2 separate regions of the Homo sapiens genome follow, and region 1 is linked to region 2. A link means that fine-mapping ties the variant in region 2 to the expression of a gene that starts in the linked region. Tissue or cell type: tibial nerve. Region 2 holds a variant in brackets; the other region holds the start of a gene. All regions are shown on one strand. Distances are between the middles of the regions.

Region 1 (6,341 bases), 410 kb after region 2:
AGGCACAATACTGCATACCACTGTTGAAATGGCATTTGAATATCAGAAAGAATCTACTTCATTTTGTATTATTATTTTTCTTGGATTAAATGATAATAATACAATCTTGTATTTTGTTTTTAAGTAGGTGCATTTGTTATAATTTTAGCAAGGGAGGTTGATTTAAGAAAAAAATATGTAACAAGTGAATCATTTATAAGAGATTCCATGATTTTTCTAATATTTATTATTTACATAAAGATGTCACAGTAAAAGATATTTGCCTCATATAAAAGATGGCTTAAATTAAATATTTTAATTAGTATAATATTCAGTAATTTAAATTGTTTCATGACATTTACCCTAATGTAAATTACTTTCAATGCACATGTATCAGCCTGACCCTCCTTAAATCTTTATGGTAACATTTCCAACTCTACTATGTTGTCTCTATTACTGTGTCCTCATAAGCAACCTATTTCCAAACTGAACATATTACCTCTGCCTAAATCTCCCTCCTTGCATAGTCCCTGAATTCTGCTACTGGCAACACTGTGTTACCAATTGCCCAGCCTCAAGCATTAGTCACCTTTGACTTTTTCTTCTCCTTGTCATCATTTAATAAATGATAAACTAATCCTACTTAGTCTATCAGTAGAATATTCTGGTGATCTTTTAATGTAAACATTAGTGCAATATTCATTTAGTATTGTCAGAAGAAATATTAATTTTCTATTAGTAAATTTTTACCTATTTGTACATGAAATACAAGCATTTCCTGGAGTCAAAGATATTATCATGATGTAGGAATGAAGACACGGAGGAGTGTAAGAAGCCAGAAGGGCAAAACTGGAAGAATATCCATGTTGCAGTGCTTGGTATTATTCTGTAATTGTGAGCAAAACAAGATACGTTGTTTGGAAAGGAAATGATTTTTAAAAGTTATGTGGAGAATAGTTCTTATAGAAGAACAGGGAATGCTTTAAGAGGGAAAGATTAGTGGCAAAAAAAAAAAATAAACACACACACATACATAAATATCCTACCATAGTTCAAGAAATAGACAATGCAGATGTGGACTAGGATATTGTCAGTGAGATTTTAATAGATTCGATGAATTGAAAACTTGTCTTGGTGTTTTAAAGCAAGGAGATATATTGACTGGTTAAAAAAGTGGAAAACGTATGGTGTTTTTTAAGTATTTGGAAGAATAGTTAGGATTTCGATAGATAAATGGGAAAAATGGAAAGAGTCCTTGAAACAAAAAGAAAAAAACATAAAAGAATTGTATGAACAGTGTGGTGCTTGTTTATCAAAAATAATATTATTTTTAAAGTTGAGAACCCTAGAAAGATAAGGAAGCAAAAAGTAAAATTATGGTTAGTCTCTTTATAAAAATGCCAGATCATAAGGATACTTTTCATAAAAAATATTTGCTATTAGACTTCTTTAAGATTCTGAATTATTTTCATACTAAGCAATTCAGTTAAATGAATAAACAATATAATTTCAGCAGGCAATTTTGACAAATGAGTTAATCTATAATTTTAGTAGCTATATGCACACAAAATGAGGATTGTGCAATAGAAGTGTGTATTTTATTGGATTACTTCAGAATCAACGTGGGATGTTGAATATATATGTTTATATCTGCGCACACTTCAAATTCCATTACATCAGTTAAAAATATACATATAAATACACAAACGGAAATAGAACTAGAAAGGCAACCAAGATAGACAAGATTTCAACATTTTTTACAAGGTGAAGATGAAAAAGGAAAGGGAACAGAGAAAGCTGAAAAACTGACTGCAGTGAGAGAAGACAGTGAGAGGCAAAACTGTTCATAAAGCACAACTATAGAAAGGCTCAGGAACTGAAGTCACTGGCTGAAGGGGAAGGTGGAGGTGAAGCTTGATACTGAAAGATGGATTGGTCAAATGTCTACAGTAAGGGTATTGAAACCATAAGGTCATATTCTCTATTGCATTTCTCTAGGTAATAACTCTTCCTCTACCTTACAAAAGGGAAACTGGATTAGAAAGCCTCTAGCATTGGGCCCACTAAGCACAGTGGAAACCATGAAGGACCTACTTCCAGAAAGCATAGGGTTCAGTGAGAAATCTTCCTACTGTGATAACAGCAACACCCAACCATCAAGTGTGTCTGGTATGTAAACATACCACATAGAAAGGAGATGGATGATTCTACTCAGGAGAAGAAATATCACCTTGGCGAAATAATCTTTTTTTTTCCACGTTTTGTAGTCTTCCGATGAAATGCCAATTTCTCTGCCATCACATGAAACAACTTTCCCTAAGACTAGAACTTCTATCATTTTATCATTTCTAGAGGGATAACAGATGGAACAATAGTTAATACTTAAATTTCATATTTATAGAACACCATAAATTCAAACTTCTAGCTTGCACCCAGAACCAATTATTTGTGAACTGTGAACTAGACTATTGAACCCAAAGCTTTTTTTCCCAGGGTTAAATATTTTGAGAAAATTCTTTAAAAGTTAATCTAGGACATGCTGGAAAGATCCTAGATAATCCTAGACTGTCCTTTTGCTTTCAAATAAACCAATAAGGTGAATATTATCCAGAATTAAACATCTATCACCTTTCAAGACCTCTCCTGAAATTTCATCTAGGTCACGTTAAAATGACTACATTGTTTGTTCTTTCTACACCTGAAAACTAAAGAACTAACCATCTTTAGTTGAGTAGATTATTTCATATTATATCTAGCATCTCTATTCATGCACAGTCTCATAGAATAAGAATAAGCTAGTATTTCCATTAAAGCAAAATATATTTTCATGATATATTTTTGTATTGCCTGACAAGGCTAAATAGAATACTTAATGTAGAGTTCTTCAATGATATAGGCCTAGACATATACCCATTTTCAAGTAAAATACTCTACACAAATAAACACCGTCATGTTTACAAGCAACCAAATATATAAGAGTTGCTATTCTTTGATCTCTTATTATGAACCTAGTGCTACTGAATTAATGCTCCTGTGAGGTCAGTACTATTGTTATATCCATTTTATGGACAGGAAAAGGCAGAGACATGTTAAGGTAATTTCCCAGGTTGTATCATTAGTAATTGTCAGAGCCAGGATTCCCACCTAAGTGGTCTCGCTCCAAAAGCACTATGCTATACTGCCTCTAATAATCACAATGTAAATTATAATCATAAATTTATCCTATCTTCAGACACATAATTTGCTTACAAAATTTGAGTTTGAAAAGATCCTCTCCACTGATGAGCTTTCCTGATCTCTGCTTACCCAAAGCTGTGGAGGCAGGCTGCTGTGTTCTTCATCCACTCTCCTTTGTTTCTCAGCACAATTGCTCATTGTTCACCATTAAAGTCAACTCTAGGCTCTATGCTTATTTCTACTTCACACAGCTGATGGCTTCCTACTGCTTTAGCTGGTGTTTCTCCAAGTCTGATTCCTAGACAACCTGAGACACTATTACCTAGGGTGCTTATTTAAAATGCAGATTCTTATCCCCAGACTAAATGTATTCTATCAGATACTTTGAGGTGTGGCATCCATTAATCTCTGTTTTGTCACAAAATCTTTAACGTGTGCGAGTTTATTTACACAAACAGCACATGCTATACTCATATTTCTGAATGCATACATAAGAAACTGTAATAGTTGTTATTCCTCTTGTAGAGCTAAACAATGAGAATAAGGCTCTAGAGACACTAGAACTTGCTAGTCTAAAGACACTAGCTTTTTTAAGCAAAACATTTTGTTTCAGAATGTTCTAAGTTTTTAACAAGCACCTAGATAATTCTTAAGCTCATGATTTTTGAAAACCAGTGTGTTATTCCAATATCCCACTAATGGTTTAGGATAATAAATATTACCTATTAATTTCCATAAGCTTCATAGTTACATCCAAACTAAATTCCTTTGTGATGCTGTTACAATTCCCTTTCTTCCTCATTTGAACTTGTTCTCTCCAACTGCAGTGCTATATCACCAAATTTCCATGTGGCTTATTACCTCCCTCAGTTCAGATCTGCTCATCAAAAGTCACCTCAGCAGAGAACTTCCTAGACCAATTTACAAAATAACTCCTCAAGTGTGGAGGGAAAATGTGCTGACCTAATTAAATTTTGAATAGAGTGGAATCTAAATGACTAAAAGCAAAAGGAACTATACATAAACACTGTACATTATTTGATAAAGTTCATTTTTCAAAGGAGTACATGTTAACAATTTTGAAACTACTATACATGTATACTTGAACTGAACAAACAAGTAAATGAATAGCAGATGGTGGGAATCATGTTTCTCACCGATGAAGAGAGAGATTATAGATAAGCAAGGGAAGAAGTCTAGAATGACTCACACAACATTGGATTAGAGTTGGAGTCATCGAATTAAATATAAACATATGTTTAGCATAATATACATACAGGTGGACATATATAGTGAAAGTTATAGATATATGTGTATAGTAGCCTGTGCATACACCCATGTATTAGGTTAGTATACACACATAGATTTCCAAACTCTCTCGGCCGGAAGAGTCTAGACACTGTGACACTGCAGTAGCAGCAAACTCACCCAGTGCTCAGATCTTGGTTTGCATTATCTTTACCTTCCCCAATAAAAGGTATCAGGGATCCTTAGAGAACTGACTAATTCAAGGGCTGGGACATGGAATATACAAGATGAGCCTGGAGCATCTTTGCAATGCCAGAAAGTAAGGAAGTGATTTTTAAAAATGATGAGGACATATCAAAGAGACACAGGAGAAAAGCAAATGATTTCCCAGTGGTCAAATCTGGAGTGGTTTGTAGAAGAAAATGAGTATTGGATTATAATCCAAAGTATAAAATAAATATCCATGACTCCATCCTGATATCAATGGATGACTGAATATATTTTTTAAGTGAAGGGGACTAATCAGATCTCCTGTGCGGGAGAATTCCAAATAGTTGATGTAGATACTGCTTCCTTAGGGAGGTAGAGTGCAACTTACAAGTGCTTGAGTATGAGCTGCATATAATGACTTTCTTCCAAAGAGCACAGTATGGAAAGAGAGAAGAACATTGTTTACAAAGGAAAAACCTGACAAAGAGTACTTTAGCCAGGTAAAAGACTTTCATCAACATGTTGATAGAATACAGTCAACTTTCATAAGGCATGTTGATAGAATATAGCCTTGATGTGATGTGATGACAATGGCATTTTACATTTGTGATCGTCCCAAAAACCCATATCCTTAGTTTCTGAGTAAAACACAAGGCAAACCCAAATTGAGGGATATTCTACAAAACACCTGACCAGTACTGATCACCACTATCAAGGTTATTAAAAAAGAGGAAAACCTGAAAAACTGTCACAATTTAGAGGAGGTTAAGAGATATAATAACTAAATGTTAACATGGTATCCTAGCTGGTGACCTAGAACAGAAAAAGGACATTAGGTAAAAACAAGGAAATCCTAACAAAGTTTGAACTTTAATATATATCATCATTGTTTCATTATTTTTTACAAATGTAGCATATCAATAGAAGATATTATCAATACAGTAAACTACCTGTGAGTTAAAGAAGTATATATTTGCAAATTTTATGTAAAGTTAAAAGACTATTCTAAATTTTTAAAACAAAATAATCTCAACCACAGTATTAAATGACACATAAACTTTTTCATTATAGTAAAATATATCTAACATAAAATATACCATTTTAACTATATTTAAGTGTATAATTCACATTCACATTGTTGTGCAACTGTCACTCCTATTAATCTTCAGAACTTCTTCTTCATTCCAAGTTGTAACTCTGAACTCATTAGCAAACAACTTGCCATCCATCCTAGACCCTGGTAACTACCATTCTGCTTTCTGCGTGTATGAGTTTGAGCACTCTGGGTACCTCATACAAGTGGAATCATACAATATTTGGTCTTTTGTGCCTGGCTTATTTCATTTAGCAAAATATCTTTAAAGTTTATTCCTGTTGTAGCATGTATCTGAATTGTATTCCTTTATAAGGATAAATAATATTCCATTGTATACACCACATTCAGTCAGTGGACATTTGAGCTGTTTCCACCTTTTGGCTGCTGTGAGTACTGAACATTGGTGTAGAGATCTATTCAAGTCCCTGCTTTCAGGTCTTTTAACTATGTATCCAGAAGTGGAATTGTTGAATCACATGTAAATTCTATGTTTAATAATTTGAGAAACGTCTATACTATTTCTATAGTGGCTGCACCATTTTATATTACTACCAGCAATACAGAAGGGTTCAAATTTCTCCACATCCTCACCAACAGTTTCTGTTTTATGAGGTTTTGTGTTTGTTTGTTT
Region 2 (6,341 bases):
AATATGCATAGCTATTCAAGTTCTCTTTCCTTAAATGGGGCACAAAGTTGTAATTTGCATTTTTAACTTTCCCCTTCCACAAGCCATTCATTGTTCCCTTGCCCTCAACCAGCATTGAGCTGGTGTGATTTAAATCTTTATTCCTGGGGAAGGCAGGAGACCTTATTGGTACTGTCTTTAGTGAGTTGATGTTGTTTCCTAAGGGGTGTTAAAAGATATTCCCCATAAAAGGAATCTCCGGAGATTCAGACCTATGCCCTCATTTCCCCGGCGTTAAGCATTATTGTGTTAGACATTGTTCCAGATACTAAAGGGCAGAGTGTTTCAACATTATGCCAGGAAATTGACGTAAAATGGAATTCTGAGATGAATTTTCTGAGTTGACTGGGCTTGACTTGATAACTTTTTGCCACCCTGGTGATGCCTCAATTGACTCACATTCAGTGAAACCATGGTGGTACAGAGAGAATTTCTACCTAGGCTTCAAAACGTGAACTTTCCCTCAGAAAGGGTGACTGCAGTGCTGCTGCGCATCTAACCAGACAGCAGCAAAGGTCACCACTGGCTCACTAATAGGGCTTTATATCCCAGGCAAACCAGCCAGCAACCTGATGGCAGGATTAACTTACAGGAGATCCTTTTCCATATGGAGAGGCCAGAGATTTATCCTCATAAAAATAAACCTACTAGATATGGATTATTTTTCTTCTCAATGCTTGCAATGCTTCTGTGAAAACTACCATCCTTTGACTTCCTGAATGGTTTATTTATTGTAATGATGTCCCAGGGCACTCACAGGGGGAAGATCTAGAAGTTGCTGCAAAATGTCGTGTCTGTGAAGTCCATATGTTTGTGTGCTGCCACTGAGAAAGAAGGCAATGCTTTCTTATTCATACTTTTCTATCTCAAAATTTCATACAAATGTATCTTAGCAAAATGAGAATCACATTGAAGATTTGTTAAAAAAAAAAAAAGTAAGTTTGATAAATATAGTACCAAGGCTTCTAGCCTTTGCAATACAGAAGAAAAGACTGGAAGGTGTGCAGATGACTACCCATTGAAATATGGAAAGGCACTGAAAGGTCTTGCCCAGACAGGTAGCATGTACTTGCTTTGCCTTCTAGTCTTCTGCTCCGACATCCATTGCTTGAGTCAGGTGCCTCTCTTTCATTATCTGCGGATTTAGATAAATCATGTTAATTGGCTAATGCAACATGGAAACTATATTCAAGTTTTAAAATAGGTGACATATTTTTCTTAGGAATTGAGGCCTTCACAAGAATTATCACGAACTCTTCATATACTGAAAATTTGCTAATTAGATGCTAAAGTTTAATGACCCAGGCTTCTGGACAAAGCATCTCATTGTAGGAAATGCAGCTTTTAAGAATACGGTAAAAAGTTTGATCAACACCATAATGCAGAAATTTCAGAGAGGAGTATCTGATGTGCTTGAGAGAATAATATTTCAACACAATATATTGGTTTAATTGAATCTTGAATGATGAGAGTAAATTAGGTAGTAAAACAAATGGGAAAGATGTACAAAGAAGAAAGTGGAATAGATGCTAGTGCAACTGTGAAAACATACGCTCCTAATATAATTGGGATATTAGGGTGAGGTGGGAGACATCCTAATCTCTAGAGAAAATAGGAAACTGCCTTTCCTCTTCCTGAAGAGGTTAAGATTCATTGCACATGTAGGGAAAAATGGATTTCTCAGCAACAGAACTGGATCACTCTAATGGGCAGAGTTGGTTGGAAGGGGAAGTTTTGCCAGTAAGAATAAGCAGTTATACATAGAACTGAAATGGCCATTTCTTAGTTTATTTGCATTGCAATAAAGAAATACCAGAGGCTGAGTAATTTATACAGAAGAGAGGTTTATTTGGTTCATAGTTCTGCATGCTGTACATGAAGCATGGTGCCAGCATTTGCTTCTGGTGAGGATTTCACTTCACGGTGAGATGGGGGCAAAGGGCAGCTGGCATGTGCAGAGGTCACGTGGCAAAAGAAATTAGAAGCAAAAGAGAAAGGAGAGAGAGAAAATGGAGGTGGCAGGCTCTTTTTAACAATCAGTTCTCCCAGGAACTAATAGAGCGACTCACCCATTACCCTGAGGGTGACAACAAGTTGTTCATGAGCGATCTGCTCCCATGACCCAAGTGCCTCCCACTATGCCCCACTTCCACCACTGAGGATCAAATTTCAACAAGTGATTTGGAGGGAACAAATATCCAAACTATATCAGGTTGTATGTTCTTTTAACTTACATCATTTGCTTTTAGATTGTTCCATCTCAAGCAACTGCTATGTCCTGTGTAACCTGGAGGAGATATCCAACCTTAGATGATAAAGAGAAAACCAAGCAGAGCCCATGATGGATAAAGGGCAAGAACAGGCCACAGAAGCATATCTGTCTTAAATTTATTTTCATGGGGTGTTTCTAAGCTTCGGATGGTCCAGCCCAACTGAAAGGAATCAAAATCCAAGGAGAATTTTGTGGGTCATATGCTAGTAATAAATGACAGGGTACATTTTCCAGCGATGTGTTCTATGATATATAGAATTATCAGACTAATAAAATTAGCTACAGAGTAAGTGGTTGGTCAAAGACTTGATAGAATGAAGTCCTTATATTGGCTGTTTCCACCTCAATTCAGGTAATGTCAAAGGCTCTGTGACAAGGATCTATTTTGTAGATCCTTTTACTAGTAAACGGTGTAATACTGAATAAGATGAAAAAACTTAAAGTCTGAATAAAAGAAGTTATCCATAGTAGAATATGTGGTAGTCTAAAAGACCTACTTAACTTCATAATTCCTCATTATTTTGGAATAAATTAGTACTCAATTTTTTTGCAAAGTTCTAAAATATAGGTAGAATTATCTGATAGGCTTTATGTAAGTTGTATAGATAAGGGATCTGCATCTGTGTGCCATTGTATATAGGCTTGGTGCTATTCCCG[C/T]CATAAAAATTAGTCCCACAGCTTGGAATTTAAACTTAACGCTACTGTTTTTGATACTACAAAATAAGTTTTCGCTGTGAACCACTGAAAGGATTTTTTCTCTATCTAATTTTGAGGTTTTCCATCAACAGACACTTAGTGGAGATTTTCTTAGTAAGAGATGGTTTTACATTACATGCTGTAAAATCACAGTTCAAAATTACCTGAGTAAATTTATTTTCTTTAACAAGTGCTTTATAAATATTCATTTAAAAAGTCATGTTTATAAATTGAAATGGTCCTTTGTAAATGTCCAATTACAATCATTTGACAAGTATAAATACACTTTGTGGCAAACAATAGCCTGATTTATGCAGATCCCATTAGATATGACTGTGAACTATAATTATCCTAGTGGACTATAATTTTGCCTGCCCAGTCATTCATAGAGTTTAATATACTCAACTGAGACTGGATTTTCGAAGCTGTTTGTAACAGTGGCAATGATATATGTGTCACCACCCTTTCTAATTCTTTTTTTGCTTCAATAAATAATCTCAGCTAGGACCTCATTCATGCCGTTTTGCTCAACTCAACAGGTTCGAAACAAATTGAGAATAATATTAATAGCAAGTCACTTTTGCTAAGCCTAAAGAATACTTACCTTTGTGGGTATTTTTTCTTTTTTGTATATTTGGTCATTAGAGGTTAAACACAATGTTAGTTAAATTATTGCCTTGATGAAGTAAATTGCCTATTTTAGAGAGTATTATATAAGGGTAAGAAATTGCAGCTAAAACATGGAAGTCAAGTTTGAAAAAAAACTTGGATGTTTACTTTCCTATTTTAAATTCATGACCTATCACTTCTCCTGACTTGGTAGATAAAATCGGTCTTTAAAATTTAATATGCTATTAGTAATTGCTCATAGTAATGTATAACCCAACTTCATCACAAGAGAGCATATAAATAGAGTCCCTTTAGCAAGATGTTTGCATGATACCAAAACAACCAGGTAGTTCAGACAAATCACCCAATTTAGTGCCATTCAAAAATTCAGTGATGTGAACACAATATTAAATAACACTGTCCTGATCCTGAACCGTCTCTATGATTGCAGTTTTTGAATTAACATTACAAATAGTTGTTGAATATAGCACTATTTTTCTGATTTTGGATGACACTGTGTAGAACAAAATCTATTGTCATAGAGCAATTATTTCATTTCTTCACAAACTAGCAGGAAGATTCAACTTAGGGCAAGTTTTCTTTCCAAAATTTTGCTAGTATAATATTATTTTTTAACATTTTGTAATATAAAAGTAAGGTAAGCTTACAGCAAAACAGAAAATTATAGAATAGAATGTAGAAATCTTAAATTAAATTTTTAAAGGAAAAATACTTGTTTTACAATGCAAATCATTTTTTATCATACTCATTTATTAAAGCTACTCTTCCCTGAAAGTGCCTGCAAACTGTCATCAGTATTTGTTCCTGAGCTGTTTCTACAAAACAAACTCAACCGTTTAATGACACCAGCTTTTAGCATCTGCTTTCATTATCATTATATGAGGCAGTGCTATGCTGTGGCACCCCGTGCCTTTGGAACAAGAATGCTGGACCCTGGACCTTTAGAATGAGTTACAGAGTTTTCCTGAATACAGTATTGTGTTCTATGCCAATACAGGGATAGTGATGTTTCTCTTACATTTTGCAGTTTCACTATGCTAGATGAGTTTCAAAACAATGCTAATTTTTCTCTAGACATATAATGGAAATTTAACAAAAACACCCTTTTCAGTTTTTATTTACAGACTTATCTCGATCTTAAAGTCAGTCATGAGCCCGTAGGTGTTGGGGCATGGTATAGTGAAGATGGGGATAAATGTGAATTTTAAGCAACAGATAGCACTTATAAAACCCAGAGACTGAAAGGCTACCATCTTGTGATTTCAGGCAGGTGTGCAAGACTCTCCTTGGAGAGTTCTACTTCAGGACTTTGTTTCTTTCCCAAGAGGCTTCTAATCTCCTTTGCTTGAAGGTCTGCCCTGGCACCTCAGTTCTCTCCCAAAAGTCCATAAATGCCTACAACCTGACAAAGAGTTCAGTTTAGGCTCATGATAGGCTTTGGTATACAGGTGTGAGCCACCATGCCTCGCCCACAATCTTTCTTAATTCTATGTATACTTTTTTTATTTCTTTTTTTGAGACGGAGTCTCGCTCTGTCACCCAGGCTGGAGTGCAGTGGCACGATCTCGGCTCACTGCAACCTCCGCCTCCCGGGTTCAAGCAATTCTCCTGTCTCAGCCTCCCGAGTAGCTGTGACTACAGGCATCTACCACCATGCTCAGCTAATTTTTGTATTTTTAGTAGAGACAGGGTTTTACCATATTGGTCAGGCTGGTCTCAAACTCCTGACGTTGTGATCCACCCGCGTTGGCCTCCCAAAGTGCTGGGATTACAGGCATGAGCCACCATGCCCAGCCAATTCTATGTATACTAAATGTAATGATAAATGTACTTTTATTGATTTTCATCCTCATTCTCTAACATTTGGGTTTTTATGTTTTGTTATTGTAAATATTTTTCCTTTTAACTGTTGTTTGTATTAAGTGTTTCTTTTGGATCACTTTGTTATTGTCTATATTAAGAGTTATTTTTTTAATTAGCCGGGTGTGGTGGCAGGCACCTGTAGTCCCAGCTACTCAGGAGGCTGAGGCAGCAGAATTTCGTGAACCCAAGAGGCAGAGTTTGCTGTGAGCCGAGACTGCGCCACTACACTCCAGCCTGGGCGACAAGGCCAGACTCCGTTCCAAAAAAAAAAAAAAGTTTTTTTTTCCAATTTTATTTACTTGGAGTTAAGATTAAGTAGAAGTGGGTTGACACCCACATGATATTTTTTTTCCACAACAATTGCAATGTGAGAAAAAATGCTAAGCTCTTAAATTACTGTGGTCTATGTCCATTAAACTTCCAGTCAATTTTGAAGATGATGTATTATACTACCTCAGAGGATGCTTGTGATGAATTCCCTTGCACACCAAGAAATTACAGTTTCTATATAACTGCCTTCTATACATAACACAACCTTTGGTCTATAATTTCTGTACTCATGTTCAAGAACCATAAAGTCCCGGATTTCACATTCAAATGTCATTATTAACTGTTTTGCTGAGAATAAAATAAATTTTGAGAGAAAAAAAAGCACCAAAAACCAGTGTCATAGGATCATTCACGCTCCGTCTGTTGTTCCTCTCTCTCCTATGACAACCTCAAGGCACATTAAAAGTATTGAGTGCTCCCTAAAAAATACCAGTACAATAGACCCACTCTGAGAGATGAAATCAGAAGAGTTCAAAAGTAAAAGGAATGTTCTCTTTCTCAGTAGGCTGGT

Direction of the effects. Alleles are on the strand shown, and positions count from the first base shown. SD is a standard deviation of normalised expression in the study named.
For the expression in tibial nerve of the gene that starts at base 3,348 in region 1, T is the low allele of the variant in region 2 and C is the other (small effect, 0.25 SD a copy in GTEx).

What was found. PIP is the estimated chance that this variant, and not a neighbour inherited with it, causes the effect.
Region 1: LINC02511 starts here. The variant in region 2 is the best candidate, but not a certain one, in a credible set for the expression of LINC02511 in tibial nerve (GTEx, PIP 0.55).

The regions. Positions count from the first base shown.
Region 1 is chr4:137,209,452-137,215,792 of GRCh38, forward strand. It overlaps LINC02511 (long intergenic non-protein coding RNA 2511), which reads right to left and starts at 3,348. Exons shown (of 4, transcript NR_149105.1): 1 at 3,286-3,348.
Region 2 is chr4:136,797,061-136,803,401 of GRCh38, forward strand. It overlaps LINC02511 (long intergenic non-protein coding RNA 2511), which reads right to left. Exons shown (of 4, transcript NR_149105.1): 4 at 1-1,174. Among named protein-coding and RNA genes, the nearest start is that of LINC02510, 390 kb to the right of the region's middle. The variant C/T (reference allele first, on the strand shown) is at 2,969.